Linked DNA regions of Homo sapiens. The protein of the gene in region 2 purifies or fractionates together with the protein of the main gene of each other region. This does not show direct contact. Each region holds a gene or a part of one and is shown on either strand. Other genes may lie near its edges.

Region 1 (3,600 bases), on a different chromosome or scaffold from region 2:
CATCTCCCAAGTCCCCTGCCATTCAGGATTGTGAAAAAGTAGTATGAATTCCTAAGTCTAGACCAAAGCTGTCCAATAAATATATAATGCTCCAAAAACATAATTTAAAATTTTCTAGTAGCTGTATTTAAAAAGTAAAAGAAACTTCTGGTATTAATTTTAATATATTTTCTTCAATATAGCCAAGTTATTTCATGTGTAATCAATATAAAATTGAGCTATTTTATCTTCATTTATTAAATCCACGAAATTTCGTGTATATTTTAAACTTAGAGCACATTTCCATTTGGACTAGTCACGTTTCAAGTGTTCTTACCGGCTAGCGGCCGGGCAGCAGAGATCTAGGCAAACCGAGGCATACCTAGATCTTCTCAGGATTCTTACATGCAGAGATGAGGCAGGCTCATGTCTTGAATAAAAACCCGCCAATGATTCTCATATACGCCTTAAGGCCCAAATTAATTTTCTTTTTTCTTTCTTTTCTTTTCTTTTTTTTTGAGACAGCGTCTCACTCTGTGGCCCAGGCTGGAGTGCACTGGCCCAATCTCAGCTCACTGCAACCGCCATCTCCCAGGTTAAAGTGATTCTTGTGCCTCAGCCTCCCGAGTAGCTGTGATTACGGGCATACACCACCACACCCAGCTAGTTTTTGTGTTTTAATAGAGACAGAGTTTCACCCTATTGGCCAGGCTGGTCTCGAACTCCCGACCTCAGGTGATCCACCCGCCGTGGCCTCCCAAAGTCCTGGGATTCCAGGCGTGAGACACCACGCCCCGCCCCCAAATTAATTTTCAATGATACTTTTGCCTAGGATCAGATTTAACACTATGAGTTAAAACAAAGCTTTGACCAAGGTACGGTGGTCCATCCTTTTCTCCAGAAGCTGTACCAGCCGGTAGGACGTTCAATTAATCAATGGCTACCACACTGGTCTCCCTCTAGAAAAAGAACTCTATCCCGAATTCTAGACTAATCATCGTTAAACCCAGGAAGGCCCTCTACACCTTTATCTGTCGTTTGTCTTTGGGCTGAACCTATGCCCTGACGGTCTGCGTTCTCGCCATGCTCACAGCCCGCCACGACCCACGGTCCCGTTTCCCTTTTACGGAGCGCGGCGCTGACGCCGCAAGGCCACTTCTATCGCTCCCGACCACGGTCTGTTTCCCCCTCGCCCAGCCCAGTGCTTTCTGCCCATCGGACTCTCGGGGTGTGCTTCTGGCGGTCGGCGTCCTCTCCCGGAGCGGTGACCCCTTCTTTCAACCCCCTCAGGCGTCTTAACCTACACAAGTCATGAGTGGGAACCGGGGCGTTTTGTGTGTGTGGGGAAAAGGCAAGCCCCTTCGCCCCTCAGCCCACCCGCCCCCAGCCCCTACCTGGCGCGATGCGACCCCCCAGTCTCCCCGCGGGGGTCCTGCGCGCCCCGCCCCGTCGTCGCCACCGCCCCCCGGGAGCCGGGCGCCCGGGAGCTCCTCCCCCGGCCCCGGCAGTACGGGCGGCGGCGGCAGCGGCGGATCGCCTGTCTCCAGACCGTGGTCCTCACGCTCCTGGCCGCTCGGGGCGCTGTTGTCCCCGCTGTCACGGCGCTTGCTGGGCGAAGCCGAGGGCTCTGCCATGGTCCCTGCGTCGATTTTGCGCTTTCGGTGCTGCTCTGGGACGCCGAGGAGCTGCCCAGCATGCGCGACCCCGGGCGGCCGGATCCAGAGAGGCGGTGGCGGCGGCTGCTCAGCGAAGTCGCAAAGCAGGAGCCGCTTCCAAGGCACGTGGAACGTCACCGGCTCGGCCGCACGCCGCTTGGCCATGGGCCCAGAGGCTCGGGCGGAGCCCGCCAGGCGCGGGAGACCGAGTGCCGATAGCTGCGGGGGGCGAAGAGCGAGGACTGAGCGCGTGAGAGAGGGACAGGCCGAAGTCGGGCGAGGAGGCGACAGGACGCTGGAGGGGGTAGGGCGGGGCAGCTCGCGCAGGGCCTAGGGCTGGGGCTCCGGCTCGGAGGCAGCTCCCGCGCTCAGCCCTCGCCGCCGCCGAGATGCGGCCCGGACGTTGAGAAGCAACCGCGAAGCGGCGGAGATTCGAACCTGCGCACAACGTGCGCGCGCGCACTCTGTCTGGCCAGGCGGAGCCGCTGGTTGGTGGAGGCTCGCGGGGCGCGCTCCCGAGCGCCCTCGCGACCGGAAGTGCGCGCTCGGGGGTAGGCGGGAAGGCCGCGGCGGGATTAATTAAAGACCCGATCAAGCGGCCCGCAGAGGGGCGTGACCTTGTTTCCTCAGGAGTGTGGCGGTGGTCTTACTACTATGTTCGTTATAGCGCGGTACGTTCTAGACCCTTCTATAGGAAATTTAAAACCTTTAAAATGTGTATTTCCTTCCTCCAGTCAGTGACCACGGGGGCGTCTCCATGAGATTAAGACAAAGATTATAATAGAGTTCCAGACTATCCTGGGCAACATAGCAAGACCTCGTCTCTACAAAAAATCAAAAATAGGCCAGGCTTGTTGGCCTGCCCCTGTGGTCCCAGCTACTCGGGAGGCTGAGGAGGAAGATTCACTTGAGCCTGGGAGGTGGAGGCTGTAGTGAGCCAGAGATCGCACCACTACACTGCAGCCTGGGCAACAGAGCGAGATGCCGTCTCAAAAAAAAAAAAAAAAAAAAGGAAAAGGATAATACAAGCTTTAAATAAAACTAGTGTTTAAGAAGCTTCACAGTAGGTTGTTATTCAAAACAAAAGACTGAAGGGAGTCTGGGCTGAGGGAAGTAGCTAAAGCTAACAGAAAACACAAATCGAAGTGTATGTTTTGCATGTTTTGCGCAGCTGCTGTGGAAGGTGAAGCAGGCCCTACATTCCTGGAAGATCTCTTGATTAAAAACTTATGGAGGAAGTTACAGACAAAATGTGCAGCTCATCCAAAATAGCTGAGTAGTTGGCAAGAACCAAGCCTGAAGCGCAGCTGTCCTTTCTAACTGAAACCTAAAATTGTTGGGCTCTTAATTAATGTTGGAAGGCTGAGTTCCCTGCTTACTATGGGCGGTGGTCAGATCAAGATTCTATGGCCATTACAGCAAAATAGTGTTGTCAGGTGAAGTGAGGTGGAGACAATTGCAGTATATTTACTATTTTATTATTTTTATTTTTTATTTTGTTTGAGACAGGGTCTCTCTCGGCCACCTAGGCGGGAGTGCAGTGGTGCCATCACGGCTCACTGCAGCCGGGCCCCACTGAGCTCAAGCGATCTCCTGTCTGGGCCTCCCAAAGTGCTTGGTTTATAGGTGTGAGCCACCGCATCTGGTCGTATTTACTATTTTAATAGTTTGATAAAGACAGTAACCAAGTAAGCAGAAATGGAAGGAAGAAAATAAGACTATTACCAGTGCTTTGAAGGGAAAAACTATCATCCTCTGTAGAAAAAGTGTGCAAGAAAGATAATTCTATTTTAGTGCTAGGTACTATCTCAGTACTAATTTACCCTGTACCCCTGCATCTCAAGGTGGTTGTGAGAGGACAAGTTAATTATTAGTTATTAACAAGCACAGAAATGTACCAAGTTAGGGTAGTAAGCAATAGCTTTTCTGTTTGGTTTTTACTTTTCTTGTTTGAAATTGGTAACCG
Region 2 (3,848 bases):
GGTAGATGCTAACTAAAATGAGTACATAAACCTACAAAAAAAATTCTTTAAAGCAATAGTTGACTCAGTAAAGGGTATTCATCAACCCTAGAAAGGATCATAGCCAGATAGAGATATAGACAGACCTAGGATGGAGCAAGAAGACACTGCAGTGCGAAGTTCATATCCCCCCCTTTCTGCAGAATTACAAAACGGACTCATCTACAAAATGAAGCCACCGGAGGCTGCTTTCAGCTCTTTCTGTGCTTTCCAGTTGTGACTTTTCATTAATGTGCAAGTATGAATCCTGGCCTCTTGTGTCAGTGGACTTTGGTCACATGGGTAGATGTGTTTGTTAAGGGTCATTGGTAAATGCCAGAAGAGGCCAGAGCAATGGGATGCCAAGCAACATTAAAACATCATTAAGCCTATAAAATTCTATCTGGGAGACTGAGATTCTCTCTCTCTCTCTCTCTCTCACACACACACACACACACACACACACACACACACACATACACAAGAATGCACACCCCAACAAACAGGTACACAAATAACTGCAAGCAGATCCATTTAAACAATTTAAACAATGTTTCTTAGGTCAGTAAGACTCACAAAAAAAATCTGATTTTGGTTGTTGTTGTTAAATTTAAGGTCAAGAATCTACCATACAGCCGATTAATTTTGCACTGCTTAATGGCAACTCTAGCATGGGATTGTTTTTAAGTAAAAGTTCTATGGACATTTTTACTCTACAGATTTGCACTAAGAAACACAGGACACTATCATCACACACATTAGTGTCTATATCTAACCTACTTTAACAAGTAGAACTCTATCACGTACTATACTACAGGGTCAGTCATTTCACACTGTACAGAAACATATGCAGATATCACTCACAAAATTAATCTGAATATGGCATAGCTTAAAATTGCAAGGGCAAAGTCTATTCGAAATGTAGCATTCTTAATGCAACACTTCTGTGGTGTGTGTGTGTGTGTATTTTCCTCCAAGAGAAATAGAAATTAGGTCAGACATGCATTATGGCAGCCTGGGAGAGTTTGAGAAATTGACACTAACCCAACAGTATATTATGTTATGTAATAGAGGATAGTATTCAGCTAATATGACACCTAAATTATTAATACCAAATAAATCCTAGATTATTTGTTGTATAATGCCCAAGAGCTTACACAATAAAATGGCATTTTAACCTAATTTCTATTTTGAGCTTTCAAATACATTTCCTAAAGGTTTTATGATCAATTTGAAAAATCAGAGCTCACAATTTTATGTTGAATTCTCATGCCAATTAGCAGTATTAGCTTTGTATTCTAGCCATTATATTTTTGTTTTATTTCACATTAATTCCATCACTTTTATATGCATATTTTGTGCTGCTTGAAGATAACAGACAGCATGTAAATAAATTAAATTGTCTTGACCTCACAGGGCTATTTTCTAGCCTTGCTTTTTGGAATTAGCCCTGCTTGTCTTTCCTTCACTTCCCCCCACCCTCCTCACCATTTTCAGGGATTCAGTGGAACATAAAAACAGTTATATTTATAAGTGGAGTCCTTGTCACATACCACTTGCTTCATGAATTCCATAAAAGAAGTTAGATGAGAGCTGTAAAGCTCACAGCTATTTCTGAATGCACATGCACCCAGGGATAGGAATTTATCACGTACTTGTAGCAGATCTTTCTTCATGAGCATCTATAGATCATTACACATTTAAGAACATTTGACAGTTTATGAGGAACTGGTCCACTTATATTGGGAATTTGAGCTGTTAGTTTACCTTGCCACCTTTCTTGGTAAAAACGTGTTAAAATACAGGAGATCTTCTCTCATATCAACAAGAGGAAACAGGAATTCTAACTGGCTTAACTCTTGTGGAAGAGCATCTTTCAAAAAAGAATCACAGGCCATTTATTAAAATGCCCGCCTGGGTTGACCATCAGTCACAACACTCATGGCCAGTGCAAGACTCCAAAACCAGGAGAAAAGACACTCTTCTGTTACTCTCCATTTGCCTCTTACAAAATGCAGGACTTAAATACACAGAAGAGGAGCGAGTGTTGCAGGTGACGTGTAGGAGACCACTCGCTGGGTCAAGATGTCCAAGAAGTGGCCACCGCTTCAGAGACTTGACTCATTCATGCCCAATGAAGTCTTCATCCCAGGATTCTTCAGCAAAGACTCAAACACCTGAGGTAAATCAAATTAGACACACACACATACACACACAAATACACAATATTTACATTTGAAATTCTTATTTTGTGAGATGGCTTGAGGAAAATCGGCATACAGGTTTTCCCATGGGATTAGACATTTCTCATGATTTCTCGGTTTATTGCTCCCCTGTTGAGCTTTCAGTTCCATAAACACGTAGCAAGCTCTAATTACAAGTGAAGAAAATGAAGGTTCATGACAAAACACAACACATTGGAGACACTTGTTCAAATATTTCCTCCAAATAAAATGACTGTCCATTTTGACTTATTTTGTTTTGGTGCCATTCAAAATGTATTAAAAGCCTTAGCAACTAAATGAAGACTGGGTTTCAATAAAAAGAAAAAAAAAATAAAGAAGCCAGCAGTGCATGTCTTCACTGAATTTTTACACGGATTCGCAGGTTTAATTCTACTTGTCTACAGAGCATCTTTGTTTGAATCTACCGCATTTAGAGAAGGTCACATTGTACGCACTTGTACAGTTTAACGTCTAAGTAGAATATGTCTATCTTGTAACATGATTTTGAAAAATCATAAATTACAGTCCATTGAATACATGATTATGAGGATGCATGCAATCATCTTCCAAGCTGTTGCCATCAACACTCAGAACAATTCACCTGGTATCTTGTTGAGACCGCACCTTCTGCCCTTTGTGTCTGTCTTGGGGTAATCAAGAGGCAACCCAGAGGCCAGCGCTCAGCACCAAATGGTCAGTGTTGCCCCCCATCTTCTCACTGGGATCTCATCATCAACCTGCTCAACCCCTAAGTTGGCACCCACAAGAGACTTCCCTGCAGCCCTCTTCAGCCACAGGATATCACAGTGAAGCGCTTAGAAATGCAAGACATGTTGTGAAGCACGATGCCGAGGAGGAAGACCAAGACGCAAGCCACCAAGATGACAGTGCACACCCCCGACCAGGTGGAGCTTTTCACCACGCCCCGCCTGTCCTGCTCCTCCTCCACCGCCTCCTGGGGAGCCCCACCTTGCAGAGGCTGCTGTTCAGCAGGGATGGTCACCACGGTGACGGACTTCTGCTGGCTCCCGGGCAGCAGGCGGCAGCCCATGTCTCCGGGCAGCAGCGCACGCTCCTTGGAGATGGGCAGGGGCAGCATGTAGCACCCATTGCTGGGAAGTTTGATGAAGACCGGGGTGTGTTCGGAAGTGTGTGGAATGGCGATGACAGCCAGGACCTCCGGGTCGTCCGGGAGCTGCGACACGGAGAAGCCGGGAGGCAGCTTGGTGACACCGCGGCACCAGGGGCACCGCACATCCTTCTGGCTGGTCCTCATCTGCTGCAGGCACACTGAACAGCAGGTGTGCTTGCAGTCCAGCAACTTGGGCCTGCGCCGGGGGCTGTAGTAATTGAAACAGATCTGACATTCCAGCAGAGAGTCCTGGGACAGCGTCTCCATGGTGGACCGTGAGCAGGAAGGGCAAGGCCAAGGTGAAGGGGAAGGAGCTGCTTCTCAGAGGCCACCGCCCTGTGTCTTTGCAGTGCAGGTAATGGCAAGCTCACAGGCATCCAGTACTCACAGGTGTGTTCATTTCTGAGAGAGACAAATAATGCAAACAATCTTAATTATTTCAAAGAAGTTGAGATGTCAACATATCTAATGGA

What was found. Proteins that work in one complex are often made in the same cells at the same time.
Region 1: the proteins of RNF152 (region 2) and C9orf40 purify together in Homo sapiens (affinity purification with mass spectrometry; one large-scale study listed by BioGRID and IntAct). This does not show direct contact.

Annotation. Positions count from the first base shown.
Region 1 is NC_000009.12:74,950,813-74,954,412, forward strand, and holds the start of C9orf40 (uncharacterized protein C9orf40), read right to left. Parts: upstream 2,101-3,600; 5' UTR 1,800-2,100; coding exon 1,374-1,799; intron 1-1,373.
Region 2 is NC_000018.10:61,812,822-61,816,669, forward strand, and holds part of RNF152 (E3 ubiquitin-protein ligase RNF152), read right to left. Parts: intron 3,778-3,848; 5' UTR 3,643-3,777; coding exon 3,031-3,642; 3' UTR 1-3,030. UniProt on the Homo sapiens protein: E3 ubiquitin-protein ligase that acts as a negative regulator of mTORC1 signaling by mediating ubiquitination of RagA/RRAGA and RHEB.